7 separate regions of the Homo sapiens genome follow, and regions 1, 2, 3, 5, 6 and 7 are each linked to region 4. The links come from fine-mapping of genetic effects on gene expression. Tissue or cell type: whole blood. Region 4 holds a variant in brackets; each other region holds the start of a gene. Each region is shown on its reference strand, or each on the opposite one.

What was found.
Region 1: MAOB starts here. The variant in region 4 is fine-mapped to the expression of MAOB in whole blood (TOPMed, PIP above 0.99).
Region 2: CMTM5 starts here. The variant in region 4 is fine-mapped to the expression of CMTM5 in whole blood (TOPMed, PIP above 0.99).
Region 3: NRGN starts here. The variant in region 4 is fine-mapped to the expression of NRGN in whole blood (TOPMed, PIP above 0.99).
Region 5: ALOX12 starts here. The variant in region 4 is fine-mapped to the expression of ALOX12 in whole blood (TOPMed, PIP above 0.99).
Region 6: PPBP starts here. The variant in region 4 is fine-mapped to the expression of PPBP in whole blood (TOPMed, PIP above 0.99).
Region 7: it holds the start of CLEC2L, and the variant in region 4 is fine-mapped to the expression of CLEC2L in whole blood (TOPMed, PIP above 0.99).

What each region holds. Positions count from the first base shown.
Region 1 is chrX:43,880,306-43,884,381 of GRCh38, forward strand. It overlaps MAOB (monoamine oxidase B), which reads right to left and starts at 2,145. Exons shown (of 15, transcript NM_000898.5): 1 at 1,949-2,145. The coding sequence starts at 1,994.
Region 2 is chr14:23,375,077-23,379,076 of GRCh38, forward strand. CMTM5 (CKLF like MARVEL transmembrane domain containing 5) reads left to right here and starts at 1,970. Exons shown (of 6, transcript NM_001288746.2): 1 at 1,970-2,301; 2 at 3,273-3,425; 3 at 3,593-3,793; 4 at 3,955-4,000. The coding sequence starts at 2,176. IL25 (interleukin 25) reads left to right here. Exons shown (of 3, transcript NM_172314.2): 3 at 549-1,327. The coding sequence ends at 804.
Region 3 is chr11:124,738,030-124,742,105 of GRCh38, forward strand. It overlaps NRGN (neurogranin), which reads left to right and starts at 1,913. Exons shown (of 4, transcript NM_006176.3): 1 at 1,913-2,070. The coding sequence starts at 2,056. RefSeq lists silencers at 1,612-1,671, 1,732-2,051.
Region 4 is chr3:56,814,179-56,818,254 of GRCh38, forward strand. It overlaps a transcript of ARHGEF3 not described here. Among named protein-coding and RNA genes, the nearest start is that of ARHGEF3, 14 kb to the left of the region's middle. The variant T/C (reference allele first, on the strand shown) is at 1,543.
Region 5 is chr17:6,994,051-6,998,114 of GRCh38, forward strand. ALOX12 (arachidonate 12-lipoxygenase, 12S type) reads left to right here and starts at 1,999. Exons shown (of 14, transcript NM_000697.3): 1 at 1,999-2,202; 2 at 2,776-2,977. The coding sequence starts at 2,068. The region is part of intron 2 of ALOX12-AS1 (ALOX12 antisense RNA 1); the gene reads right to left.
Region 6 is chr4:73,986,326-73,990,399 of GRCh38, forward strand. PPBP (pro-platelet basic protein) reads right to left here and starts at 1,865. Exons shown (of 3, transcript NM_002704.3): 1 at 1,631-1,865; 2 at 1,192-1,327; 3 at 114-1,049. The coding sequence starts at 1,778. The coding sequence ends at 947.
Region 7 is chr7:139,521,755-139,525,830 of GRCh38, forward strand. It overlaps CLEC2L (C-type lectin domain family 2 member L), which reads left to right and starts at 1,931. Exons shown (of 5, transcript NM_001080511.4): 1 at 1,931-2,363. The coding sequence starts at 2,174.

The sequences.
Region 1 (4,076 bases), not on the chromosome of region 4:
GAATTGACAAGTCTTCCGGGGCAAGAACAACATGATCCATTTTTGAATCCCCTACACAGCCTCCCTCAATTCCTATTGTCTGAATAAATGGGTAAAACTCTTGAGGGGCTTGTGCCATATTTCAGACTCTGCAAAGCTATTTTACTCACATTGTTTCACTTGCCCTGTAATCCAGCAGTGACTAACTGGTGTTATCCCCATGTAGCAGATGAAGCAATTGAGTAAGACTGGGCCTTGGAAGGCTGCTTTCTTGGTTCTTAGAACAATGCCTATTCCGTGGAATGTTCTTGAGAAAAGTCAGATCTACTCATCAGTACCTTGTTTTGATCAGAGTTCGGGAGGATGAATGCAGAGGTTTCACCACTGCTTGCAAAAATAGTTAAACCCTTATCTACCTTTTCCAGATGAGTCTAACATGAGTAATGTGATTGAACCTGAAGGTGTGGAGTATGAATCAGAAAGGGACAAATCATGAAGGGAAAATAGAAAAATCTGAATCCATTGGGCATACTTTAGTGAGAAAATGACTTCGGGGGCCTGAAAAGAGAAACTTCAGCTTCTGTAAGATGGGGTGCTATGCAAGGCAGCATCAAGAGGCACTTAGTAATATTTTCTAAAACACCTAAGTAGGTATGCTTTTAAGTCCAACTTCCTCTAGGAGAGAAGATGTCAAAAATACTGAAAGAAAACTGAATTTATACACAGCCTTGGCCAACCTCAGCATGTTGTGATTACGCATCTATGTACCTGCAACACCAGGCACAGGGCCTGGCATGGGCGAGCTCACCAGAGCCTGCTAGACAGATGTGGTAGCCTGAGATCCCACCCAAAGGGGAGAAAGGCTGGAGCAGAGGCAGGAGGACTGGACCATGGTCAGCACCAAACATCCAATGCCTTGGTTTTTTCTCCAGCCACAGGAGAGTCAGAACAACTCTGTCCTGCCCTCCTGGCAGGGAGCAAGGCCAACCTCTACTTCCCAAAGGCCACTTGAGAACTCCTTAAGGCAAGTCTTAGACAATGCATCCACGGGTCTGGAGGTGTCCTAATTACTGCTCAAGTACTAGGCAGCGTTAGGAGGTGGGCCAAAGCATGCCCAGGGGGCCATTAAACAGGCTGTGCTGAGAGCATCATTGATTCCCATTGACCCTATCCCATAGGATCTGCCTGATCCTCCACAGAGGGTAAGTTCCACCACTACCCCCATCCCTTCTTCTGGCTTCTATTTTTCGGTGCCCTTGGTATGTACACAGCCCCGTGTGGCTGAGGGGGTAGTGTCTGTCCCCATCCTTGCCAAATATGGGCTAGGCCAGAGAGCAAAGCTGCAGCTTGGCCACCCTGCGCTAGGAGTGGGGTGGGGTGGAGTGGGGGTGCGAGAGGCATAAGAGGAAAACAGGCATTTGCCAAAAAGACACTGCAGCCTCAAGTTAGATCCGTGACAATCACAGAACCTCAAAGAATCAGGAGGGCCTGGAAAGTCTTTGGCAATCGATTGGCCAGGCTCCAACCTCTTCTGTTCAAGGTCGTTTTCCTGACGCCAGGACAACAATACGATGTGGTGCATGCTTGCTCTAAGCGAGGGTGCGGAGTGTCCAGGTCAAGTTGGAGCAAATGACTGACCTTTGTGCCACCTCCCCACCCCTTTTCCCTGGCTTCGAAAATTCCAGCAAGCGAAGGCCTAGCAGCCTTCTGGGGGAGAAGTTCAAAGTCTGGCCCCAGAGCTGCAACAGGCTTCCAGCCTCTGGCCTCTGCGTCCGGGAACGCACCCAAAATTGCCCCCAAAGGAGGGTTCAGTGCACGGCGCTCTGGACCCACTAGAGCCCTGCCCGTGCGTGGACAGTCTGGGGACTCCAGGGTCAGCCCCTGCCCCACGGCCGCCCCCCGCGTCTCCCCCAGGCAGCCACCTGTCCGAGCGCGTGAAGAGGAAGGAGGGCGCACAGCCGCGACTAACCTGAGATGCCGCCCCCCACCACGACCACGTCGCATTTGTTGCTCATGGCGCTCGCCCCGTTCCAGGCCTCCCTGGTGCCCGCTGCTCCGTTTTCTGGGCCTCGATCCCAGTCCTGCCTGCCAGCCAGCCCGCCCGCCTGCCCGCCGGCCTGCTGCGCGCTGCCCCCGTGCACCAGCGCCTCGGCGAGCCGCTATATTACCAGCCCCGGGAGCCCGGACGCGCAGCCCCGCCCGCCCGCCTACGCGCAGGCAGGCCGGGTGCAGCGCAGGGCCACCGCCCCCGCCCGCAGCTCTGCAGCCCAGGCCCGGGGAGGGCGGGTGCCTGGGCGGAGAGGTCACCTAGGACTTCAAAGAGTCCCGCCCCAGAATCCCCACTCCTCAGCCTTCTGCACGGTATTTTCCCATCAGCCTCCCTAGTGCACTATCAGGCTTGGCGGCTGGGAGGACGGCAAATTGGGGTGTCTTCCTTCAGGGCCCCAATTACTCCTTGGGTGTAGGGCAAATAATAAGAAACTTCCATTGAGTGATTTCAAGGTACCAGGCACTGTGCTCAGTACTTTATGCATGATTCCTGTTCAAGCTTACAACAATCCATTTTGCAGATGAGGAAAACAAAACATGGTGAGTGACAACATAAGATAAAAAGTCAGAAAGAAAAAAAAAGAAAAGAAAAGAAAAGAAAAGCTAGGAAGATTCCAAGACCCACTTTGATTCACCACACAGTACTACCATTTCTTGGCATTCCCAGCCCACCTCACCCTCCTTCCAAATACCCACTTCTTTCCCCACTCCCCCTACGTGATTAAGTCAGGAAGGCTCCTCCCTAGCATCACAAATGCCGCACCTTAAATACACTCTTAAGCAATGCAGTGTGTCCTTGGTGGAAGCTGTTGAGGCTAGACCCCAGGAGACTAGTGGCAGCAGGGAAGAGGTGGTGGATCGGCATTGTGGGATTCAGAGCCCCCAGAAGCAGCAAGCCAAGTTACCTGTGTGACCCTGGAACGTGGGTATGAGGAGCCTGGTTTAGCCAAACACAGGGATGATTCAACAAGATTATAGGAGTTTAAGCTAAGGTGACTCCAGGGAAAACAGAAGTTTATGTCTTCTGGACAGTAGGAAAGCCACCTCTGAGAACTAAAAGTGGGAAGCAGCAACATAGAATGGCTTTTCAAGAAATAAACAGGTGAAGTGCTTCTGTTCAGGCCTGAGAGGGGCTGGCTTCAGATCTGGGGAATTTGATGAGAACCTGAAGCAAACCTCTGCCTCATCCCACACCATTCCCTGTATCTACCTGCTAGAAAGGTATCCTGAGCTTCTGCTGTCCTCAGACCAGAAGACAATTTGGGCACTTCTGTGACTGAGTCACAGGTGACAGGAAAAGTCTTTGTCCACCTCTGACTTCCATCTGTCCTGCTTTGGTATAAAACAGTCAGACCCTGTGCCTGAACCCCGATCCCTACCTCATGTCCCCACTGCAGAGAATGAAGCTACCTCACCCTGCAGACAGTTTGTGCTGACCTCCTCCTTGCCATCCCCTATCTGGTCCACTTCTGTTCACAGGTCCCTGAAGCTGTGGGCTTCTTGGCTGTGGATACTCTTGTCTCCCCACCTAGCCTGCAAGTGAATTACGTGCCAGGTGAGGTAGGATGAATGGAGAGGATCTGCTACGGTTTGAATGTGTCCCCCAAAGTTCACGTGTTGGAAATTCAATCCTCAATGCAACAATGTTGGGGCATGTTTAGGTTCCAAGGGCTCCATCCTCATGAATGGATTAATGCCACTATAAAAAGGGCCTGAGACAGCAAATTTGACCTCTTGCTCCTTCTAACCCTCATTGCCCTTCTGCCATGGGATGACATATTGGGAAGGCCTTTGCCAGATGCCAACATCTCATCTTGGAATTTGCAGACTCTAGAACCATGATACAATAAATTTCTCTTCAATGTAAATTACCCCCCTTAGGTATTCTGTACTAGCAGCACAAAATGGACTAACACGAGATCCTTGTGGGATCTTCTTGGAATCTCTTTTGCTTAGTTCCAACAGTGCAAGTCAGCCAGGAGCCTGGGGATCTAAGACTTTGAATAAAAGGCAGACTGATAAACCCTTCTCTATGTCCAACTGGCAAT
Region 2 (4,000 bases), not on the chromosome of region 4:
CTGGCCAACCATGGCCAACATCATGAAACCCCATCTCTACTAAAAATATGAAAATTAGCTGGGTATGGTGGCGGGCATCAGGAGAATCGCTCGAACCCAGGAGGTAGAGGTTGCAGTTGAGCCAAGATCGTGCCACTGCACTCCAGCTTGGGTACTCCGTCTCAAAAAAACAAAAACAAAAAATCAAAAAACAAACAAAAACACCTAAAGTGTAATCATTACAATAAGAAACCTCATGCTGAGTCAGATAGAAGCAGTGCTGGTCAATGGAGGCTAAGGCAGGAGCCTGCTCACCCTCCCCTGCCTCCCTCACGGTCCCAGGACCAGTTGGAAAGCACTCTGTCACCTGCTACCCTCATTTACAGTGGGGAAAATTTAATAAAGGAGGGAGGTGACTTGTTCAAAGTTACACAGCAAGTGGGTTCAGAACTGAGACAAGAGGCCAAGGCCCCAGACGGACCATTTCCTTCTTCTGGCACTCCCATGCCACCCCACCCTCTCTGTTTCCGGCCCATCTTTCCAAGGCCTGACAAGTGCCGCCCCCACAGGTTGGACAGAGACTTGAACCGGCTCCCCCAGGACCTGTACCACGCCCGTTGCCTGTGCCCGCACTGCGTCAGCCTACAGACAGGCTCCCACATGGACCCCCGGGGCAACTCGGAGCTGCTCTACCACAACCAGACTGTCTTCTACCGGCGGCCATGCCATGGCGAGAAGGGCACCCACAAGGGCTACTGCCTGGAGCGCAGGCTGTACCGTGTTTCCTTAGCTTGTGTGTGTGTGCGGCCCCGTGTGATGGGCTAGCCGGACCTGCTGGAGGCTGGTCCCTTTTTGGGAAACCTGGAGCCAGGTGTACAACCACTTGCCATGAAGGGCCAGGATGCCCAGATGCTTGGCCCCTGTGAAGTGCTGTCTGGAGCAGCAGGATCCCGGGACAGGATGGGGGGCTTTGGGGAAAGCCTGCACTTCTGCACATTTTGAAAAGAGCAGCTGCTGCTTAGGGCCGCCGGAAGCTGGTGTCCTGTCATTTTCTCTCAGGAAAGGTTTTCAAAGTTCTGCCCATTTCTGGAGGCCACCACTCCTGTCTCTTCCTCTTTTCCCATCCCCTGCTACCCTGGCCCAGCACAGGCACTTTCTAGATATTTCCCCCTTGCTGGAGAAGAAAGAGCCCCTGGTTTTATTTGTTTGTTTACTCATCACTCAGTGAGCATCTACTTTGGGTGCATTCTAGTGTAGTTACTAGTCTTTTGACATGGATGATTCTGAGGAGGAAGCTGTTATTGAATGTATAGAGATTTATCCAAATAAATATCTTTATTTAAAAATGGCCTAATCTGTATTTGGCATCCGTGGTGCCTGAACATCTCGCGGTCTCCCAGCCTGTCCCTTCTCCTTTCCACCATTGGCCCTCACCTCTGTCCACCCTGCCAGCTCTCTCCGCCCTCCAGAGTTTCCGCTGCACCCTCCCGTCCTCTCCCATCTCTGTCTCCCTGGCCCATCCCAAACACCAGGGTGGGGGCTAGGCCGCGCTCCCGGCATGCTGGAGAGACAGAGGCCCATTGAGGCATTGCAGCAGGCACAGAGCGCCCCCTTGTCCCCCAACAATCCGCCTTTGTCCTCCAGTCCTGGCTGCTGCAGCTTGGTCCTGGGGGTGCTGCCTGGGCTGGGCTCCAGCTCACACCCTCCCTAAAAGGAAATGGGAGAAAGGACCGGCCAAACAAGAGGGTTAAGGTTAGAGAAGGGGGACACAAATGTCTTCAGGCTTAGGTCCCTGGGGGCTCCCAGTCCTGCCCCTGTTCCTCTACTCACATCCCAGCTCCTCCCAGTTTCTTTTCGGACCTCCTCCTCTCCCCTTCCTTCTCTATTCCAGGCTGGGTTGGGCTCTAAGCAAGGGGAGGGATTAGAGCCTCCTTCCTCTCTGCCCCTCCCCATGGGTCTCTAGGGGGCTGGTGCAGGCAGCAGCAGAGGCACTCTGGGCAGCTGGGTGAGGGCCCATCTGGGCAAGGCCCCCAGCGCCTGCCTTCTCTCCCGGGGCCCTGTGGGCAAGCCTCCTGCTTCACTTTCAGGTTTCTCGAAGTGCCTTCTTGCTCCTGTCTGTTTCCCCATCCTGCCAGATTTCTGTTTCTCTTGCTGGGCTTTTGGCAGTAGGGGGCTGTGTTGGTGGGCCCTACGAAGATGCTCAGTGCTCGAGATCGCCGGGACCGGCACCCTGAGGAGGGGGTAGTTGCAGAGCTCCAGGGCTTCGCGGTGGACAAGGCCTTCCTCACCTCCCACAAGGGCATCCTGCTGGAAACCGAGCTGGTAACAGCTGCCTCCCAACCTGGTGCCTCCATCTCCCTGACCCCCGGCTCCTGGCCAGCCTTATGCCAGCCCCCAGCTCACCCTTCAGTAGCCTCCTTCCCCAAGCCCTCTGGACACCTCTCCTGCCCGCAGCTGCCCCTTCTTCGTCTCCTACTCTGCCTTCTTGCTGCCTCTCCACCCGGAGACATTTACAGCAGGTTTCAGTTGCAGCAGGAAGGACTGCAGTTAGACAGGGTGACTTTTTGGGACATTGAGGAAGCTTGAGACATAGGGATGGGACAGGGGCAATGACAGCCTCTAACATGGCCACTTCTCAGCACGTCCAAGAAGTCTAACTATCAAAAAGGGCAGACTTCCTGCAACTGCACTTTATCTGTGGTCTGCTGCCCAGAAACATCTCTTCTCAGGAAAGGATCTTCCCCTGGTTACTTAGCAAGACCACAGTGTAGAGTTAAGGCCTCTGCACGTATGCCACCCTAGGTCATCAGAGCTAAAGGGGCTCCCAGAAACCACTGGGCAGCATCTGCCTTCTCTCTTGGCATGGAATCAAAGGCTCTGGTCCTTGTCAGGGGGCTTTCAGGCATCTGGGGGTGGGGAAAGCATTATGAGGCAGGGGGCTCCTCTTGGTCCCTGTGGAGTCGGGTCTCTGTGGGCACAACTCCAGGGGCTGGCATTCACACTGTACCTATGAATTACTGTGGGATAGTGCTCCTGGGAGCCATATGGCTTGGCCAGACTGCTGGGGTTGCTGGGTGAGCAGAGTGGGAGGCCGGAGACTGCCCTTGACCGGCAAATGCCCTGCAACGGTGGCTCCTGACACCAGGGGATAGGGAGATGTGCCAGAGTCCTTCCTCCCCTCCAAGGACAGGTAGTAGGTGCCAGCCTAGGGGAGCTTCCAAGGAGGGGAAGGCAAAGCCCTGGCCCCTGCCTGTGTCCCCTTCTTGGCATGTTCCACATGCTCGGTCCTGCAGGCCCTGACCCTCATCATCTTCATCTGCTTCACGGCCTCCATCTCTGCCTACATGGCCGCGGCGCTACTGGAGTTCTTCATCACACTTGCCTTCCTCTTCCTCTATGCCACCCAGTACTACCAGCGCTTCGACCGAATTAACTGGCCCTGTCTGGTGAGGAACCCTGACCCCTAGCCCAGTTTGGGGCCCTTCCCTCTCCTCTAAATGATGCATTTTCCTTTCCTCCCCGAGCTTCTTTCCATTTCCACACCACAGCTGGGCTTTGTCCCATGCTATGCCCTGCACTCAAAGGTGTGCTTTGACTCACACTGATTTCACAGCTGCAGGGCCACGGGCAATCAGGAGGACCACATCCGCTAGATCTACTCTCCCACTCAGCAAAGGTCCAGCCCCAGCCCTGGCCTGGCTTGACCCCCCCGGGCTGGCATACTCCAGCCGCTGTCCCCTGGGTTCCAGCCCCAGCGCCTGGCTTCTGGTCCTGGTTGCTCTGGTTCATCTGCTTCCACTCCCTGGGTAGCAGTGTGAGCGCTCTGTCTCTTGAATGTGCTTCATATTGTGTGAGGGGTATCCTATGGAGGGGTTCAGAATCCCTCAGGGTCGGGCTGCTGGCTAGCCTGGAAAACTTCAGGGTAACGCCCCCTGCCTTCTGAGGTCCTGTTAACCCTGCACCCCTGGCCCCCAGGACTTCCTGCGCTGTGTCAGTGCCATCATCATCTTCCTGGTGGTCT
Region 3 (4,076 bases), not on the chromosome of region 4:
GGGGGTGTTGTAAAGATACCCCCCCTTCAGTTCTGACCAGCAGGAAGAAGGGCCCAGAGGCAGCGCAGTCTGCAGAGGGATGTTGCCTAGCAACTTGGGAGACTTGACTGCAAACTCACCAAATCCCGAATTCCTCAGCTCTAATTTGGGAAGAGAAAAGCACAGAGTCTAGGCCTGGTATCCACTCTGTCCCCCAATTTCCCCCTTTCCTCTCCTCTCTGGATTCTGGAGTTGAAGTCCAGCAGGAATTGGCACAACAGAAGGCCACAGATGTGCGTGTCATTTAGGCAAGGGCCTGAGTTCCCAGGACATCTGGCCACTTGGAGGAGGTGGGGAGATGAAAGATGTGCCAGAGACAGATTGGGGAACAGATTTTTTTTTACAAAAGTGGGTGGGTCCCAAACATGCTGGGAGAGACACCCCTACACCCCAAGCCCTGGAATCCCGGCCAGCATCCAGCTCAGCCTGGGACCCCAAGCTGGCTAACCTTATCCCCACCCTGAATGGACTCAGGCATTTCTCTCCCACTCATTTTTCCTTTGGCAAGCAGAGCCTCGGGCCCAAACATCTAGGTGGAAAGGAAGCATGTCACCGCCACGTGGTCCCTGGTCATGGCCAGGGACTGGGGATGCACAGCAGAGCTGTCTCAGGATCTGCTGTCCCAACCAGAGCCACAGGGCATTTCCCACCTTTGCTCCCAGCAGGAGCCATCCTTTCCTCCTTCCCTTCTCTGGGACCTTAGCTGAGAAGACTTTCTAGTTTTCTCAGAGAAGGCCTACCCTACCCACATAACAAGCCACACTGCCAGCTTTTGTACCCTGCCGAGTTGGGGGAGGCTGACGACCACAACAGTGGCAGTCTGTCCCTCCCAGATGCTCTTTCCATAGCTCCCCTTCCCAGCCTCTCACGAAGCCCACATCCTGCCTCATCATGGACCCAAGAGCCAATTACTTCGAATTCTCTACACTTGGGTTTAGGGTATTTTTCTTCTTCTCAGGAGCAAGGGCGAGGATGGCCAGCTTTTGTCTTATTCTGAGGCAGCAGATCAAAAGGTTAGGCAGAGTCTGGTATGAAAGGGAGGAGGATACTTCTTCCAAGTCTGTGCCCATATATAAATACATACAAAATAGGTGTTGTGCATATATGATGTTGTTTGTTGCAGCTCATGTAGACAGATCGATAATAGATACGTCATGCCGACAGCTTGAGTTGGGTGACTGTCCGTGTGCGTGCGTGAGCGCGCGGGCGCCCGCAACAGGGTGTCCGCATTTACCTGCAACTGAAGGGCTGCGTAGTTATTTTTGCAGGTTGTATCTGCAGTGTCTGTATGCTGGAAGAAGGCCTGGGAAAATCATATGTGGACATGTGGGGCTTGTGAGCTTTTGTGTGGACGCATGCCCATCGCCAGGTTGTACCAACAGGTTTCTCCGTCTGTAGCAGGAGTGATGATGAGACCTTTTTACCGCCCGTTAGGGAGCCTTTCTTTGCGGACTGAGGGGGAGTGAAGTGAAAGGGAGCCATATTTGGGACTCCTGCTAGGTTGTGGAAGTATGGAGGGATGGGTGAGGGGTGCGTGGTTTTCTCTGAGCGGGAGTAGGTGCTGTGCCCAGATGTGGGTGTTTGTGCTCGGGGTGTCGGGGGCCTCCTTCTGCCTACTCCGGCGTACATCTGCCTGGCAGTCTGCCGCCTAGCAAGCCAGGGGATTGCGCCCGGGAGGATGGAGTGTGTAGGAGGCTTGGATACAAGCGTGTAGGCGGAGGGGCTGGGGCAGGAGCGGGAGCGCGGCGCAGAGAGCCGCGAGAGGGCGTGGCCCTCCCTCCACTTCTCCCCGCCCACCCTGCCGGAGGCTGCTCCTGATTGGCTTCCCGGCCGCGGGGCTCAGGTTACATTCGCGAGCGGAGCCGAGCGCGGGAGACCGGACCCGAGAGCAGAGCTGCTGTTTCGGCGCGGGTCGGCTGGCGGCCGACTGCCCCAGAGCCCCCACCCGGCACCACACAGACCCCACCCCCGCCCTGCGCCAGCCTTCGTCCCCGCAGAGGACCCCCCGACACCAGCATGGACTGCTGCACCGTAAGTTAGAGGGCCCGGGGGAGGGGCACTTGGCGGGGTCCGCTGCGAGAGGCGCCTGAGAAAGCCCTGGAGGGCGAGAGAGGGATGGAAGTGGATGCGGAAGACCTAGGAGCAGAAAGAAAAGGGGTCCTTGCCGAGACGTGGGTGGTGGATGGTGGAAGGCGCCCGCCCGACTTGGAAGCCCTAGGAAAAATGCTCCTCAACTCGCGGGGGCGTCTGAGCGCCCATCCGTTAGACAGCCTAGGCTGGACTGGGAGCTCGGCAGGGCTCTGCAAGAGGGGAACTGCGGGTTGGATGACAGGAGGAACTTCCTCCCCAGTGAGACGCTGGCAACCATCGCCTGGAGACACTGCAGCGACTCCTTCCTCCCGTCTTTCGGCCCCCACCCCGTTCCCCATCCCACTGCGCCGCCGTCGGTGGGCGGACAGGCTGATCCTCATGACCCTCCAACGATCGCCTAAGCGCCCTGTGCAGCGCAGGCTGGTCCATATTGGTTAGCTCGGTAGTGATGCTGGCTGCAAAGAGCCTAGTCAGGGTGGTTCTGGGGAGGGGTTGTCCCGGCCCCCAAGGCCTTCTCGCTCGGAAGGGGCTGGGTGAAGTGACCGCGAGAGAGCCCTGCTGGCGAGGAAAGGAAGTGTCTGCAATTTGTCAGCGCCCACGCGGAAACCTGGGTACTGCAAGTGCCCAGCGCCCGAGGGGTTTGCTGTAAAGGTGACTCGGTATGAAAGCGCCTGGCATAGGCCCTGGCTCCTGCCTCACTGGAAGAGTACAGTGATCATACGTATATGAAATTTATTTGTTTGCTTATTTATTTTTTGCCTCTGCACTTGGAGAAAGACTATTCCAAAGTCCTTGTATTTTCAGTCATTCAGTCAACCAGCTAATGATACACGAGGTTACTGACTTTGCCACCTTATGGCATAGTAAAGAAAAAAAAAGTGGGCTTTGGAAGGGAAGGATAGCCCAGTTCTATAATAGGTGAGACTTTCCCATGTCTGGGTACCAAGAGGCAGAGAACACTTAGGGGCAAGTGGTGGTGGTTGCGATTTTAACTCTTATTAGTTTAAGTAATAGTTGCCAGTTTGTGAATGCCTGCCCTGTAGCCAGCACTTTATATTTAATCATAGCAACAACCCTGTGAAGTAGGTATTATTTCACAGATGTGCCAACTGAGGTTTAGAAAGTTAGATTTTTCCAAGGAAGCATGACTCCTAACTGTGGAGGCAGGATTCAAACATAGCCCTGTCTTCTTCGAAGAGCTGTGGTTTAACCTCTCCTCTAAATATTTACTGATTATAAAAGTAATCTGCTCATAATAGAAAACGTAAAACCTAGAGAAAAGTATGAAAAACAAACATGTCAGTCACCTACAGTCCCACCCCCTGGAGAACACCCCGATAACATATCTCCTTCCAGCCTTTTCCCTCTGCTTGTTATTCTACAGGAAGCAATTTTTTGGTTGTGAAGGGAGAAATGGGCTCCTCATGGAGGTTCCTGGGCTCCACTGAGGAAGAGCCCTTCCTCCCAGCAGTGTTGTATAAAGTAGAGAAGATAAATGGATGGTGGGTTCTGGGAAATGAGCTGGGGGGAGGGGAGAGGTGAGGATGACAGGGGAGTATTGCTGGGGAAGGGGAAGTGGGAGACGTGGTCACTGGAAAGAGGTGAGTAAACAAAGAATCCAAGAGGCCAGGGAAGGAATGGAATTGGTCTCCTCTGTGTCTGCAGTAGTAATTAGAGTAGGATGTGGGGGTCCCTGCCTGGAACTGTTGCTCTTGAGTGCCCAGGGAGCCATACTGAGGGATTAGTAGACATGGTTGAAGTCAGTGTCCCTTAAAAAAGGAGAGGCTACCCACCCAAAAGGTAAAAGAGAAGCAGATACACAATTATCTCCATGGCCCAGGGCCTGGGGCACCTCCTCCAGTGCACCCTGTGCACAGGAGCCTTCCCAAGTCATGCCCTGTCCTAGGTCTGCAGGGCTAAAGGGCTGAGCAAGAGAGAGCACCATT
Region 4 (4,076 bases):
ACAAGCTCTAGAACAAGCTTTTCCAACCCATGGCCCACAGGCTGCATGCATCCCAGGATGGCTTTGAATGTGGCCCAACATAAATTTGTAAACTTTCGTAAAACGTTATGAGACTTTTTTTTGCGATTTTTTTTAAGCTCATCAGCTATTGTTAGTGTTAGTGTATTTTATGTGTGGCCCAAGACAATTCTTCTTCCACTGTGGCCCACGGAAGCCAAAAGATTGGACACCTCTGCTTTAGAATGAGAAGCCTGGGTTCAAATACCAAGTTTTCACTTGCCAACTATATGACTTTGGACAGTTTACTTAATGATGACAAACATCAGTTTAAGCATCTATAAAATGGGGATATGAGAGTTTCAAGGTTTTAATGAGTTAAAAACACATGAATAATCCAATAAGATAATATGTATGTCAGATTTCTAAGCATACAGTTAGCACGTCATGCTATTATTAACCCTTCCGGTAAATAAATCATCCTTCTCCCTTTTTTTTTAAATGAATTAAGGAAAAAAGGTGGAATTTGGAGAACTTTTCCAACACTCCTTGCTTCCAAAGACATTAATTCTTTGATTTAATCTTATAATTTCAAAAAAGGATATGACTGTTGCACATATATAAAAGAAGCAGCAGAGTGAAGAGTGAACTGACCTAAATTAGAAGACATGGGCCAGGTGCAGTGGCTTACACCTATAATCCCAACACTTTGGGAGGCCAAGGTGGGAGGATCACTAGAGCCCAGGAGTCTGAGACTAGCCTGGGCCACAAAGTAAGACCTCATCTCTACAATAATAATAACAATTATTATTATAACAATTAGCCAGGCACAGTGGCATATGCCTATGGTGACAGCTACTCAGGAGGCTGAGGCAGGGTGATTGCTTGAGCCTAAGAGTTTGAGGCTGCAGTGAGCTATGATCGTGCCACTGCATTCCAGCTTGGGCAACAGAGCGAGACCCCACCTCTAAAAAAATTAAAAAAAAAAAAAAAAGAAGACATGGTATACAATCTGGCCCTACCATTAAGTCTGTGGTCTTGGGCAAGTCAAGTGATCTCTCTGAGACATAGATTCTTGAACCATATAACAAGGTGATTTAAACATAAATGTGTATGCTTCTGTGATTCTATTAAACAGCAAAGACTGAAGTGTATATGGAGTATTATCTTGATTTTATGCTATTTAATTTCAGGAAAGCTTTCAAATAAAAATTCATATCTTATGTACTGATGAAAGCACCCTGTCTAAAATTAGCATGTTTGGTATAGGCAGCCCACATTTTGGGTTGGTTCAGCATGGTAATATTTTATGAAGGCTCATCAGAAAATTAAGCTCAATGTACTCATTTGTCAAGAAATGCATATGCATATAGATTCTTTTAATATCAAATGGCAAAGCAAACAAGAGGTTGAAACAGAGGAAAGATCAACTATGAGAAAAGAATTACTGAGGGAAAATGGAGACAGACTACAAATGGGATAGAACTGGCCTAAAATATACCACTGTCACTTAAAAATAGGTACTCGGTTACATAGTGCCTGTGT[T/C]ATCTTTACAACAGCATTTGGTTCCTACACTGTCTTCTTCCTACAGGCCTGTTATGACTATGAGAGCTATCTGTTCCTTCAGTGGACCAAGTCTTGCTGCCTTGTGGATTCTGCCCAGTCACAGCTTCCCTTCTGCCCTTCAAGGGTGGGCTGCTTGCATCTAAGTGGTAGGGCCATACCTAATTCTGTTCTGGATATAACACAGATGACTGACTGGGCTTGGTGGCTGATGTCTATAATCCCAGTACTTTGGGAAGCTGAGGCAAGAGGATCACTTGAGGCCAGAAACTCAAGACCAGGCTGACCAACATAGTGAGATCCTGTCTGTACACAAAATGTAAAAATTTAGGAGGGCATGATGGTGCATTCCTATAGTCCTAACTACTTTAGAAGCTGAGGCAAGAGGATGGCTTGAGCCCAGGAGTTGGAGGTTACAGTGAGCTATGATTGTACCACTACACTCCAGCCTGAGTGACAGAGCAAGACTCTGTCTCTAAAAAACAAAACAAAAATACACATCTAGATGGTTGCTGGCATGAGATGCTAAACCACAGGCTTCTCAAAGCTGAGGGTTCTGTGCAACCCTGGCCAAACTTCTTACCCAAAATACTTACTTACATTAATGTTGTCCATTTATAAGAATTAGAACTAAAAACAAAGATACCTTGCAGCAACTTCTAAATAGTGCCCCATAAATAACAAATAGCACTAGAATTACTTAATAAATCATAATCTTCATTATTCTCTAGCATCTGTTTCCCCTACTAGATTGTACGCTCCAAAAGAATCATGAATCGCTTGTACAAGGCTACATCCCCATTGCCAAAAGATGCCTGGCAAGTGATGAGAGCTCAGTAAATGATGCTGAGAGCCGAAGAGGTGTTTGCTCTCTGCCAGGCACTGTGCTTTGACTTTAATGAAGTATCTCAAGTAATCCTTACAACAATCCTATGAAATGAGTACTTCTATAGTAGGAGAAACTGAGGCACAGAGAGTTCAAGCAACTTGCCCAAAGTCACACAGCTAGTAAGCAGCAGAGCTGGAGTTCAAATGCAAGCACCTTGCTTCTAGAACCTCAAGTTCCAATTCTGAAGCGGAACGTTAATTCACAGGCCAGTCACAAACCAGGGAGTCCTGAGGCCAGAGCCTATGATGCAAGGGTCAAGGATTTGAGCCTATATGATATGACTGAAAGAACACTGAATGAGAAGCAGTGCTGACTTGGGTCCAGTCCTGTGACGTTTTTGCTCACCAGCTTCCCCTGCTGATCAATCAGGGGGTTGGATGCTCACTCAAGTCCTTGTCAGGTGTCAACCCCAAGTGCTAGAGTCACCCTAGACATAATCTCACATCCAGAAAACTACAGAGCACAGTGTGCTCTTCCACCTTCCACGAGGGAGAACCACCAAAATATCAACCATCAAGCAAGTTACTCAGTCTCTCAGAACTTCAGTTTCCTCATCTGCAATCAGGACCAAATAGCACCTACTTCAAAGGGTGGAGGTGAAGATTAGAGAGAAACCTGGTTAAGGGGCTACCACATAGTAATAATTTCATAAACAGTAGCTAGGTTTATTATGGTCCCAAACAGAGCGAGGAGATAAGTCTGGAGGAGGAACGAATCTCTTCAAAACCCAGGAACCAACCAACCAGTTGGAAAGACAGCTCTGAAACTCAGATTTTTAAACAATTTCTAACAGTAGACTACATGTGTGGCACATCATCCAAGCAAAAAGTTCCATATCAGATTCTCTTTCAACAAATGGAGTAATAAAGACAGGTTTGAGTTAACTTCAGCTGGAACAGAAAGAACCATTATGACTTGGGAAGTTCACACCTGAGTGCTGAAAAGCTAGAAAATAATGTTAGGTGCCATTTGCCTTATGCCAGACCTGTGACAAGCATGTGACATATATTACCTTACTGAATCCTCACAACCTGCTGAAGAGGGTACTGCCCTGTTGTATAAATGAGGGCATGGAGGCTCAGAGAAGATAAGTAACTTGCTCAAGATCACACAGCTACTAAATAGCCATGCCAGAACTTACTTAGTCTGCCAGAACGTTGATGGTCTTAACCACAAAGCTACACCCTTCCCCAAAGATAGCGTGTCATTGGCCCCAGCATGCCCCGTACCCACAGGGCAATCATGTCCACACCATGGGCAAGTGGCTTTATAGGAAGGCCACGCATGGGGGATCAAGTGGCCTTGGGTTTTGGTCCCTGTTTACCCACAGACTGTGGCAGCTATGGACAAGTCATTTAACTTTCCTGGACCCTGTTTTGATCAAACAGAATGTACTGGATTAAAGTTTTTCAGTCCAAGTCTTGTGGAACATTAATCACTTACATTTTATACCCGAGAGGTTAGGGATAAAAGAGGAGCCAAAGACATAATGAGCTAACCCTCTGTCCTGGGACTCTGGCTAGGGGAAGAAGTGGAACACATTTGTTACCAAACAGAACTGGGTGACCCTCAGTTCCCTTCTATCTTGAAAATTCTGAAACTCTACTGAAAATTCTGAAATTCTCCT
Region 5 (4,064 bases), not on the chromosome of region 4:
AATAATAAAACTGTTTTCTTTCTTCACTACTTTCGTGGAGAGGTTTTTTCTGGGTTGGGAGAAAATTTTGCTTCTAATTATATTCTCCCAACATAGCGCATGTGCTTAAAAGGGAAACAAAAGCAGGAGGGGGAAGGGTCTAGAGTGATAAGAGCTCTAGTGAGAGGCTAGGCCTAGAGAGGGACATGGAGAAATAGCATGCGGAGAGGAACGGTAGAGGAGCAACGCTAACATTCAGTTGTAAATAATACAATCATAGCAGCTAATACATAGAGGGACTACACGCCAAGCACTGTTCTCACTGTTTAGCCATATTCACTCATTTAGCATGCGCAGTAGCTTGAATCCGGTTTTTCAATTATTCATTCCCTCTCTCTGCACGTGGCCGTAGAGTACACTAGAGTGGGCAGAAAATAAGTCACAAAACAGCAAAGAAACAGTGCTTTTGGAAGTAGGTATGAGACAAACTCTTTTCTAGGCAAAAGTAACCCACGAAAATGTGTGTGGAAAGGCCAGATCCTACTATTAGGCAGGATGGGAATTTGAGCCATTTTATTTGGATATTACAGAATGGGGTGACCCCAGAAAACTGGAAGAACTGGGGACCAGCAAATGGCCGACCTGCAGTCCTGAGCAGAGGATGTAGGCCAGAGTGGACCTAGAAGATAAGAAAGGGAATTGAATCCAGTAAGGGACAGACACTTTATTTTTTTATTTTTATTTATTTATTTATTTATTTTTGAGATAGAGTCTGATCTGGAGGCTGGAAGGCGGGGCTAAAACTCCCACTCACTTACCTCTACCAACAACTAGGCCACCAAGTCATTTCTGAGGACTGGCTCAAGAAAGCAGATTTAACTTACACTGGCCTAGCCCAGGCCACCAGATGCATCCACGGAGATCCAAATGCATATAATCACTTGAATCAAGATCTAGACAGGGACGCGTGCAGCAGGCTTCATCTGACTGATTCCTGACACGGGAGAGAAAGCCTAAGCTCCGAATCATCCTTCAATGTTTACAAAGGCCCTAAATAGCAGTGGGCTAATTGCTGTTCCTGGATTTCCAGGAGACCTGAGACCCATGAAGGAGCAGGAAAGAGCTTGGGGATAAAAAATTAATCTGGAACCTACTGGAGCGGAAGGGGCTGCACTCACCTGGAAAAGACAAAGTTCTTGGGAACTGGCCACGTAGGCCAGGTCCCTAAGCAATTCCATCCCGCACCCTAACACCCCGACTGGTGTTCCTGGGTCCCTAACATTGTCTGTACCCGCTTCGGAGGTTGGACAAAATGAGTTTTTCACTGCCCTGCCTCAGGCCTCTCTCAAAGGTCTGGCCCATGATATTTGGTGTACATTGGGACCCCAGCGCCCAGATATTTGAAACGGGGTGGGGAGCGGGTGTTGAGCTGCTACATTTCCAGGTTCTAGGTACCCTGGGGAACCCCTGGTCGTTGACGGAAGCACAGCGTTCAAGGGCGGCAGAGCTCAGGTACTGGAGGACACATGGGCCGCGCCGGGTCTAGCCGCGGGACATCCCCAGACCCCAGCACGGCCTCCCAGGCCGACCTTCCAGAAGCCGGCCCACTGCCTTCCCCGGGTCCCAGCCCAGAAAAGCGGAGACCTTCCCCTCCGTTTGGAAGATGGACTCATCCCCTACTTCCTCCTGGCTCCCCAGAAGACCTGGAGACCTCGGGAAGTGTTCTCATCTATGTTCGCTCCAACCCGGGGGCTCAGGCCCACCTCGATCCCGCCTTCCCGGGAGGTCCAGGAAGGTCCCGCCGCACCCACCCCGTTGGCCTCACCCTGGCTCGGGCCCCTTTATCATCCTGCAGCTACGCTCCGACCAGGAGGCACAGCCAGTCCCCACAGCCGGCTCTACCGCTCTGCTCGCAGGTTTGGGCTAGTCTGGGGCGGGGACTTGGGAGCGCCTAAAACTTGCGAGGAGGGCGGGGCCGCAGACCGGTCCTTTAAAGGTTGGAAGTGGCCCCGAGGCGCCGGCAGCCCTGGGCGGTCCCGGGAATCGCACAGGACCCGGCTCCCCTCGCCTAAGCTGCTGGGGGGCGCCATGGGCCGCTACCGCATCCGCGTGGCCACCGGGGCCTGGCTCTTCTCCGGGTCGTACAACCGCGTGCAGCTTTGGCTGGTCGGGACGCGCGGGGAGGCGGAGCTGGAGCTGCAGCTGCGGCCCGCGCGGGGCGAGGTCAGCGCGGGGAGCGAGGGGAGCTAGGGCAGCGGGGACCCCGGGCCCAGGCCCGGGCCGAGCTGGGCTCGCGGCGGGAGGGCGGGAGGCTGGGGGCGAGGTGACAGCGCGACCTCGCGGACTGGGACTTCCACGAAGCTGGGACGAGGTGGGCAAGATTAGGGACAGGGTCCGCAGCTGGGATCCCGGGCTGGGCTCAACCCCATCTCCCTTTCCCGCCCCTGGTCCCGGCAGCCCCCAGCTCCTTCTCCCAGTGACCCAGAGCCAATGTAAGTATGAGGCCAGAGGTCAGACGTGAAGCTCCTCCAAGAACCGGCGCGGGGAGAGCTCAGTTAATGGGACCCACGTGGGCGATGCTGCTCCAGCATCAGCTCCAGGCGCTGCGGGCCCTCGTCCTCCACCCGACTCCGGGCGTCTGAGACCCAAAGAGCAGGTTGTGCGGGGGCGGGAACGAGGCGATGCTGTCTTTGGAGGCCCTGAGAAACTGAGGTTGCACAGGAGCGCGGCTCTGTCCTCGAAACGGCCTCAGTCGGGTCCCTCCTACTAAGTCTGGCCTGGGTCCGGCCTGCACAGGAGGAGGAGTTTGATCATGACGTTGCAGAGGACTTGGGGCTCCTGCAGTTCGTGAGGCTGCGCAAGCACCACTGGCTGGTGGACGACGCGTGGTTCTGCGACCGCATCACGGTGCAGGGCCCTGGAGCCTGCGCGGAGGTGGCCTTCCCGTGCTACCGCTGGGTGCAGGGCGAGGACATCCTGAGCCTGCCCGAGGGCACCGGTGAGCAGGCGGCGTCGGGGAAGGAGGCACAAGGTCTCGGGAACTGCTGCGGGGCTAGGAGGGCAGAGTTAAGGACGGTCGGAGCAGACTTAGAGGATGTATGGGCCCAGGGCAGGTGAAATGTAGGGATCCCAGGGTGCTGGACAGAAAACGGGAAGGAGTTATGAATTCCCAAAGTTTTACACAGGCTAAGAGAGGCTGCGTGTGAGGCTGGAGGCAGGGAGTAAGTGATCTGGAGATCCCATCTTCCAAGAAGGCAAAGACAGAAAGTGGGAGTTGCAGCGATCCAGGAAAACAGAGAAGCAAAGTGAAAGTAGGAAGGAGATGTAAAGGTGACTCAGAAGTCAGGTGAGGGGACCACATGGAACAGGAGGGGGTGGGTGACCCGTGAGAGCAGACAGCTAAGGGAAGAAAACATAGGATGCTGGAGAGCTGGTTTGGTTGGAATAACACGGAAGACACCCGTGAAAGACAAGAAGCACACTGGCCCGCAGGAGACGAGGAGGAATGAGGATGGCAAATAGTGAATTTTTTTTTTTTTTTTTTTTGAGATGGAGTCTTGCTTTGTTGCCCAGGCTGGAGTGCAGTGGTGCGATCTTGGCTCACTGCAACCTCCACCTCCTGGGTTCACGCCATTCTCCTGCCTCAGCCTCCCGAGTAGCTGGGACTACAGGCACCCCCCACCACACCCGGCTAATTTTTTATATTTTTTTTAGTAGAGATGGAGTTTCACCGTATTAGCCAGGATGGTCTCGATCTCCTGACCTCGTGATCCGCCCTCCTTGGCCTCTCAAAGTGCTGGGATTACAGGCTTGAGCCACCACGCCCGGCCCAAATAGTGAATTTTTAACCATGGGTAATGAGTAAAAGAGAGATGAATCCAGAGATGAGTGAGGGCAGTAGGGATGGAACATCAAATCTATGACTTTGAGACAGGTGAGTGTAAATGCAGAAAAGACCCAGAATAAGTCCATAGATACAGATTATGATAGTAAATCCAGAAAGATGAGGTTTAAAAAAAAAAAAGCAAATGTAGAATCTTTTGAGGACAGGTGAAGGCGTGGCAGGTGAGGTTTAAGATGTGAAA
Region 6 (4,074 bases), not on the chromosome of region 4:
TTAGTAACTTTTGTTGTTCAAACTGTGAAATACCAAGTATACAAAAAAGAGAGGAAAATTAAAGCTTTTTTTCCCCAACAATCCTGTTAAAATTAATAATAGATGACAACAAGTCAATAGCAAATTTTTATTTCATGTGAATATTTTTGTAAGAATAGTGTGGGTATAAGTTTTAGGGTTTAAAAAATGAATGAAAGTTCTGTTGATGAAAAAAGTAGAATTTAGAATTAGGAGTCTAGTAAGGTTGAAGTCCTATATTGTACTTATTTATAAGGCTCATTCTAATGATAGAATTATAACTATGTAGATATGTTAATTCATTTTCATCATCTATTTTTGTTCTACTAGTGGCAAATATATTCACTTTAAACCAGCTAACCACAGTTTATAAGATTCATATTCACCAATTTATTATTTTAGTGTTTGATGGCTAAAATAAACATCAGAATAAACTTTCAGGGAGTATTTTAAATAAGACATCCTAGGACTAAGACACTGAGAGACTCCATTAAGTTCCTAAATATATTAACAAAAATGTATTGAGCAAATATTCTCTGTTGGGCTCCATGTAATTCCTATTATCATTGACCATTATGAAATCTAATAATACCCATGAGTATGTCTAATAACCATAAAGTAGACCAGGAAAAATCAACCAAGTTGTGTTAGAATAGAAATTTTTAAAGAAAAAAATGCAAAGTACAGTCCAATGTTTAGGCAAGAATTAGAGGGTTGAAACCAGGCTTATTTATTTTCATCTTCTTTCTGCCATCTTTTAACCAACCTTCTCAGAATAAAATGTGATTTTTGAGACAGAATGAAACACATATCCAAATTTTAATACAGTAAGAATAGGTATCCTGAATAAATGAGAACTCTAGAAAATCAAGGTTTCAAAATTCTACCCTTCCTGGGAGTTAAAGAAGTTTGGCAGAAACAGAACAAATTAATCAGCAGATTCATCACCTGCCAATTTTTTCTGTACAATTTTCTTGATTCTGGGAGCATCTGGGTCCAGGCAGATTTTCCTCCCATCCTTCAGTGTGGCTCTGCAAAAGAGAACAGGGTTATCTGTGGGTGTCCTGATCTGAATATCAGAACTAATCCATGAGACTGGAGGAAACGAGTGCATATGTGGATGGAGGTAGAGGGTTTCTCTGATAAGGCAATAGCACAGAAACAGCAACTTACATCACTTCGACTTGGTTGCAATGGGTTCCTTTCCCGATCACTTCCAAACTTTGGATGTTTTTGGGATGAATTCCAGAGGTTGTCTTTATACACATGCAGCGGAGTTCAGCATACAAGTCACTGTCTAGACTTTCCTCTAGGGTAGAAAATGTGACCTATTGGTGGTCATGAATATTTTCCTCAGGTCTCTTATTTGCAGATTGAGGGCAATTGTACCTCTCTCATAAAGCCATTGTGAATATGATCTGTAACGCTTTAGTAAAGTGCCCAGAAGATTGCCCAGCACACAAGAAGTGAGAAGTGACCCCCCTGTGTGTCTCCTCCAATTGGAGTTATTGGTATAATGGCCCTCTCCAGCCCCAAAGGCACCAAGCTAGTCTTTACCCCAGAGACAGGTGTAGCAGAAGCAGCAACAAGTGCAGAGAAGCAGGGCCTCTACCTTTGCCTTTCGCCAAGTTTCTCTTAGTTTGTCCTTTGGTGGAGGAAGCCAGAGCAGTCAGCAGCAATGACAGAAGCAGCAGCACCTGCAAGGCATGAAGTGGTCTCGCACTGTTACAGGAAGGGGTGGTATCAAGTCTGAGGCTCATGGTGGAGAAGGCTGAGCTAGAGTTGTTTCCAGAACCAGAAGACCTCTGAGTGAGGGTGAGTTGCTGCCTACAAGTCTGCAGATAAGTGGCTTCTCATGCCCTGAAGATGTCATTTATATGCTCTTTCTCAAAGCCAGTAAGAAGGAAGAGGTAGGAAAGGAGGAAGTGAGGGTATGTGGTGATACACACATAAGCATTTGAAGCTGTGCCCAACCCAGAGAAAGACCAGACAGGTCAAATTCCTACTAACTTGCTTAATGTGCATCACTTCACATTCCCACTCTCCCTTTCTCAATACTTATCTTCCTTACACCTGTGTAAGAACTCCGTTCAGGAAGGTAAGAACTAGACTGAAATACTACATGCATTTTCTTTGTATGATTTATAACAATACGCCCTGCCTTTTCTATACTGCAGTTTTTAGGCTTAATAGAAACTTTAGGAGCACCTGAAGGCACAAACATGTGGCCCTTGAAAGAGAAAGTTATCTTTGCTTGCCAAAGAAAGCAAATGTTCTTTTCATGAATGTTGATAAATATTGGGATTGGTTTGGAGCATGTAAGTAAAATAAGAGCCAATTACCGTCAAAGGTTGTCTTTGGATTTTAGCTTATTGGATTCTTTCTGCCTTCAATCTATATTATCTTTTGTAATTTCATCTAGAAACTACAAATGAAACTCATCCTCCTTTATATTACAAAAGAAGCTACTTGTTTCTACCACCTAAGAATACCTAAAAAGTAGGACCCAGCATATTTATTTTTCTTTTTATTTTTAATTTAACAGAAAAATTATATAATTTATTGCAAAAGATTCGTATGCTGCAGATGTCTTTGAAATAAAACACAAATTTCTCTTCATCATTTCTCCACATTCCTACTATTCAGTGGTAAACACTGGTAACAATTTTGCATTAGTTTTCAATTCTGTCTGCACTTATATGCACACATGTATATGTATACAATGAGACACGTTTAAGACATAGAGGTACACATATACATAGAAGTATTGTATATGGATCACTATACAGCTGACTTTTATCCTTCAAAAAATATGTGTTCCTTATCTTTTCAGGTCATCTTAATGTAGTTTTCCCCCATTCTTCTTAATGACCATGTGACGTCCTGTGATAAGAACAATAGTTACTCAACCTTGCCTTGTTGGTGCCCTTCACGGTGTTTCCAATTTTGCACTATTAGAAATTGTGCAAGAAATGTCCTTACCAAGGAAAATATTTGTTCCTGAATTCTCAGACCCAAATTAAAGGTTTTGGTCTGAAATGCTATATCCCTACAAAGATAGAGAGGTGGACCTACACATTACATGTTGGCTTTATGTTATTTTCTGGTTCTCTGTCCCATCTGTAAGACTTCCTTCCTCAATTGAACCATGCACTTTTGTAGGGAGTGGCATGTCCTGTGTTTGTTTGAATGTCTCATGTATCCTATAACATGTAGGATACTTCAATATAAAGTAGGTCTTAAATAATTAATAAATCAATGAATACGTATCACATGAAAGCTTCCCTATCCTTTCTAATCACCTACAATTCCAGGCCAAACTCGACAGGACCCAAAGCAACTATGCTATTTAAATTTATTTGGAAGATTGTCAATAAAGAAGAGGCAGATGTAAGTGGCACTGGCAACAAGTTTTCTTCCTTTTACAACTATGTATAAGTCTCACAGAATATTATTTAAATTTTCCATATTCTTTTCTTACTTTTCATATCCTTAAATTTTAGAAGAAATGCTTAAAATACTAAATGTTCAAAATTACTCTCTATCAAAAAGATGAATATAGTAATTTTTTAAATCATGTTTTTGTTTTCAAGCCAATTTTCCCTATTGTTTAATAGTTATCTACTATGTCTACTCAAGTTCTCAGGTCCTGTTTTTAAATGCGATAACCTACAGACCACATTTGACAGTTTACTTTAGAAGTAAGCAGACTTCCAAATTAACTCGCCCTGGAAAGGTTTCGTGACTTGATGGTGACATTCTATCTCTGAGTAAAGTATTTTATTACGAGTTCCTCAAATGATTGATGTACTAATTACTGTAGAACCTACTGACACTAAATAGGACAATGATTTATTTCTAAGTTTAGCTGAAACAAAAAGTTTTATTGATTGTTTTGTATGTAGACATTTAGCCTGTATGCTGTAATCTGTAGCTAATGATTTTAACTTCGGTATTGTACCCTCCAATGAAAAAGAAGACAACTCTGGTATGAGGAGTTTTTCTGCCTTATTTTAAGCTTTTCTATTATATAAAGCCCTTGTAACTTGTGAAAGA
Region 7 (4,076 bases), not on the chromosome of region 4:
GATCTTGGAGCTCTCAATCCAGCCCTGGGCTGATCACCTCTAGACTTCTTTCAGGTAAAAAAAACACAAAAAACCAAAAAACAAAAAACAAAAACCTTCTTTCTAGTTAAACTCTTACTGGGGTTTTCTGTTGTAGTCTTGTTGAACCTACTCTGAATGAATGCAGTATCCTAGAGACTGTGCAATCAGAAGCATTAGCAGAAATTTGGTAGGCAAACTAGGGTGCATGGGGGCTACAAGGAGGGGTTAGAAGGACCAAGGAGGAGATGTGTTCCAGGCAGAAGGAAGACAGTGTTCAAAGGCCCAGAGGAAAGAGTCAGAATAGTTAGGTGTGTCTAGGGCTGGCAGAGAAGGGGTGGGAGGAGAGGATGCCTTAGGTAGGAGCAGGACTTTGACCATGAGGGACCTTGAGGCCTTGTAAAAAGATGGCCTTAATCCACAGGTAAAGGGACCCCTGAAGGAGTGGTGAGTTTGCACTTTAGGTAGATGCTGCGGGTGTGGAGGGGGAGGGGCTGGATAGGAGGGAGCAAGAGTGGAGGATGGGAGACCCCTTAGAAGGCTGCTGCTGTGGTCGGGCAAGAGAAGGCATTGGCTTGTACTTGGCCAGTGGCTAGAGGGATGGAGTGCAATGCGCAGACTAAGAGTTTAAAAGGGGCCGGGCGGCCGGGCGCGGTGGCTCACGCCTGTAATCCCAGCACTTTGGGAGGCCGAGGCGGGCGGATCACGAGGTCAGGAGATCGAGACCATCCCGGCTAAAACGGTGAAACCCCGTCTCTACTAAAAATACAAAAAAATTAGCCGGGCGTAGTGGCGGGCGCCTGTAGTCCCAGCTACTTGGGAGGCTGAGGCAGGAGAATGGCGTGAACCCGGGAGGCGGAGCTTGCAGTGAGCCGAGATCCCGCCACTGCACTCCAGCCTGGGCGACAGAGCGAGACTCCGTCTCAAAAAAAAAAAAAAAAAAAAAAAGGGGCCGGGCACGGCAGCTCACGCCTGCAATCCTAGAACTTTGGGAGACCCAGGTGGGAGGATCGCTTGAGCCTGGGAGGCCGAGGCTGTAGTGACACTGCACTCCAGCCTGGGCTACAGAACGAGACCCTGTCTCAAAAAATAAAAATAAAAATATTTTAAAAGGGAGAATTCACAAGAGTCAGTGGCCTATTGGATTTGGGGGAGGGAGCAGGAGGAGCTGGGGATGAGGAACTGAAGATGGAGACAGGAACCAGAGGTTGGGGCTGAGAATGGTGGAGGGGGAAGAGGATCAGGGCTGGAGGCGTGGGGCTTCAGGCGACGCGAGGTCAGCTGAGGCAAGGGGCCAGTGAAGGCTCCGGAGGGAGCCCTGGCCTGGGAGTCAGACACCCGCCAAGCACGCACCTGCCTGGCGCCGCCTTCGGAAATGTCCTTGACCTCAAAATTCCACTTCTCAGCCTCACCTGGGGGCATTGTCAGCTAATAATATGTGAAAGTCCCTGGCGCTTAGTAGGTGCTCAATAAATGTTAATTGAATCTGCAACGTCACTTCGCTTGCTCCTTTAGACTCTACTGTCTCTGTGCTCATCGTTCGGACGTTTCTCTCCTTTATCAAGAGTTTGGGGGTCAAGTCACAGCCCCTACCACCCTCTGCTGTGGCTCCAGGGCAGCCGGGAAGAAAGGCGCTCATCTTCCCTGAGCCTCCCTGCACTGTCCCCGCGAACTTTATTCCCATTTTCACAGATGGTGAGCAGGCGGCTGGGGAGATGGAGCTGAGTTAGAACCAGGTCTCCCGGCTCCAAGACTGCGCTCCCAGCTCGACAGCATCCAGCCTCCAGCCCAGGTGGCGGGGTCGGGGAGCCGGCTGTCCCCGCTCCTCCGCGCCTCCTCCCTCTCCGCCCCTGCCCCGCCCCGCCCGGGTCCACGGCTCCCGGCTCCCGCGCGCCGCCTCGCGCTCCTCCCCAGCCCGGCTGTGCGTGGAGGCTGCGGCTCGGCGGGGCAGGCGCTGAGCGCACCGCGGCGGCACCCGGCGCAGAGGCTCCAGCGCGGGGAGCCGGGCTCAGCCCCGGCCTGCCAGCGCCGCGGTCCTAGCCCACCCGAGGCCGGCCTGGGGGGCCCGCAGGGCGCGCGGAGCGCCGAGTGCGCGTCGGGCTGGGCCCCGCACCCCGGTGCAGGAGCGCGGGCGCGGCGCGGCGGAGCGCCCCGCATGGAGCCGGCCCGGGAGCCCCCCTCGCGGGCCCGGCCGCCGCCGCCCCTCGCCGCGCGCCCCGCGCCCGCCCCCGCCGCCCCCAGGCCGCGTTCGCCCGCAGAGGCTGAGGCCCGCGGCCCCGAGGGGCTGCTGCGGCGATCCGGGTCGGGCTACGAGGGCAGCACCAGCTGGAAGGCGGCCTTGGAGGGTAAGCGCGGAGCGGCCTCCCTCTCCTGGCCCAGGGACCCCTGCCCAGGCCCGACCCGCGACCCGGAGGCGGTCAGAGTCACCTTGGCCGCTGTCCCGGAGGGGAGCGCTGGGAGCGCGGCGCCGGGACGCGGCGGAGTCATTCATTTCAGGGCGGCCAGACGCCGGTTCGTGGGGTGGGGTGGGAGGGAACCGGGGGCCACCGCGAGTCACAGCCTCGACCCCGCCTCTGCTGCGACTCCCTCTCTGACCTTGGAGCGGGCTTCACGCTCTGAGCCTTCGTCTCCTCACGCATGAAGGGGACAAACACTGCCTGACACCCACCAGACAGGCGTGTTGAGAGGGTGGCGGAATCTGTGGTCGTGAACACGCTTCGAGTAAAGTAAGAAAGCTGGAGACCCCAGAGGTGGTGCCCGCCCCTGTGAGAGCCGCGGGGACCCCGTGGTGGTGGGGCATGTGGGGAGGGCAGGGCAGGGCAGGGGTGGAGAATCCAGGAGAGGCTCTTCCTTGCAAGGTCAGGGGTCACACCTACTCCTCCATCAGACTGCCTCAGGGAGGGACCCCTGGCCTGCCTCCGGGGCAGTAACCCAAGTAGAGAATTGATTTCAAGTTCATGAGCTCTTTAAGGAAACTTGTATTAGCTACCGCCGGCGGCGTGTGGTGTGGGAGATGCAGGAGTTGGTGAGAGGGTGGCTGGCCCTTTGGGTGCTTCTCAGGGTGCTCCTGGCACCCTGAATCCAAGGACAAGGAGGACCTGGGCAGCATTAACTAGGGAAGCCTGGAGCCTGGATCACCCATCCTTAGGGAGGCAGTGTCAGAAAAGGAGGGCTTCCCAGGAGTAGGTGACCTCTTAGCAGGCGTGGAGACAGAGGGGAAGGTGTTCCAGACCCAGAGCATGACGTATCCCAGGCCAGGTGGTCAGAGCTACTCTGTGCCACGTGGGAACTGAGCCCTGGAGTACTGAGATGGGGCAGGGTGGAGAGAGACGGGCCTGAAGGACCCAGACGGTGAAGGGCCAGCCAGGCCTTGCCCAGGAGCTTGGACTTTGTTCTGAAGGGGCTACTGAGGGGTGGAGATGGTGGGCTTGCCCTTGGAAGACTGGTGGTGGCCCAGAGGGGTGGGACCCAGGCTCGAGGTCAGGGAGGGGGTGGGGCAGTGGACCAGGAGGGACATAACCAGCAGCTGGGCCAAGGCAGGTCATGGGGCTGCTGAGGATGGCGAGGTGGGGATGGTAATGCCAGCCTTCTGCACAAAGGCTATGGGCCAGGGGACGTGCACTGTCCGAGGAAGGGCTGTGCAGACTCTGAAGCTGGACCACCAGACAGTGGCAGGGACAGAGGAGGCGAAGATGTTGCGTCACCAAGGAGAAGAGCTGTAGCAGAGCTGTGGGTTGTGAAGAGTTGTGTGGAATGGATGGAGGTGGTCAGACACCCCCCCGTGACGCTGTCTCCGGCTTTACTGTTGGAGTGGCCCTGTGTTCCCACGCTTCACTCCTGCCAAAGCTATTTCTTGAAGTTGTTCCCTCCTCTTGCCTGTATTTCTTCATTCATTTATTCGTCAGCATTTCTGAAGGGTCTGCCCTAACCTTAACCCCAGCCCCCATGGTAGGGCTGCTTCTGGGCTGCTGTGGCCCTTTAATGCCTCCTGCTTGCTGTTCCTGTCCACCTCCTGCCCTGACTTCCACCCCCTTGTGCTTCCTCCTCCCCACTGTGGC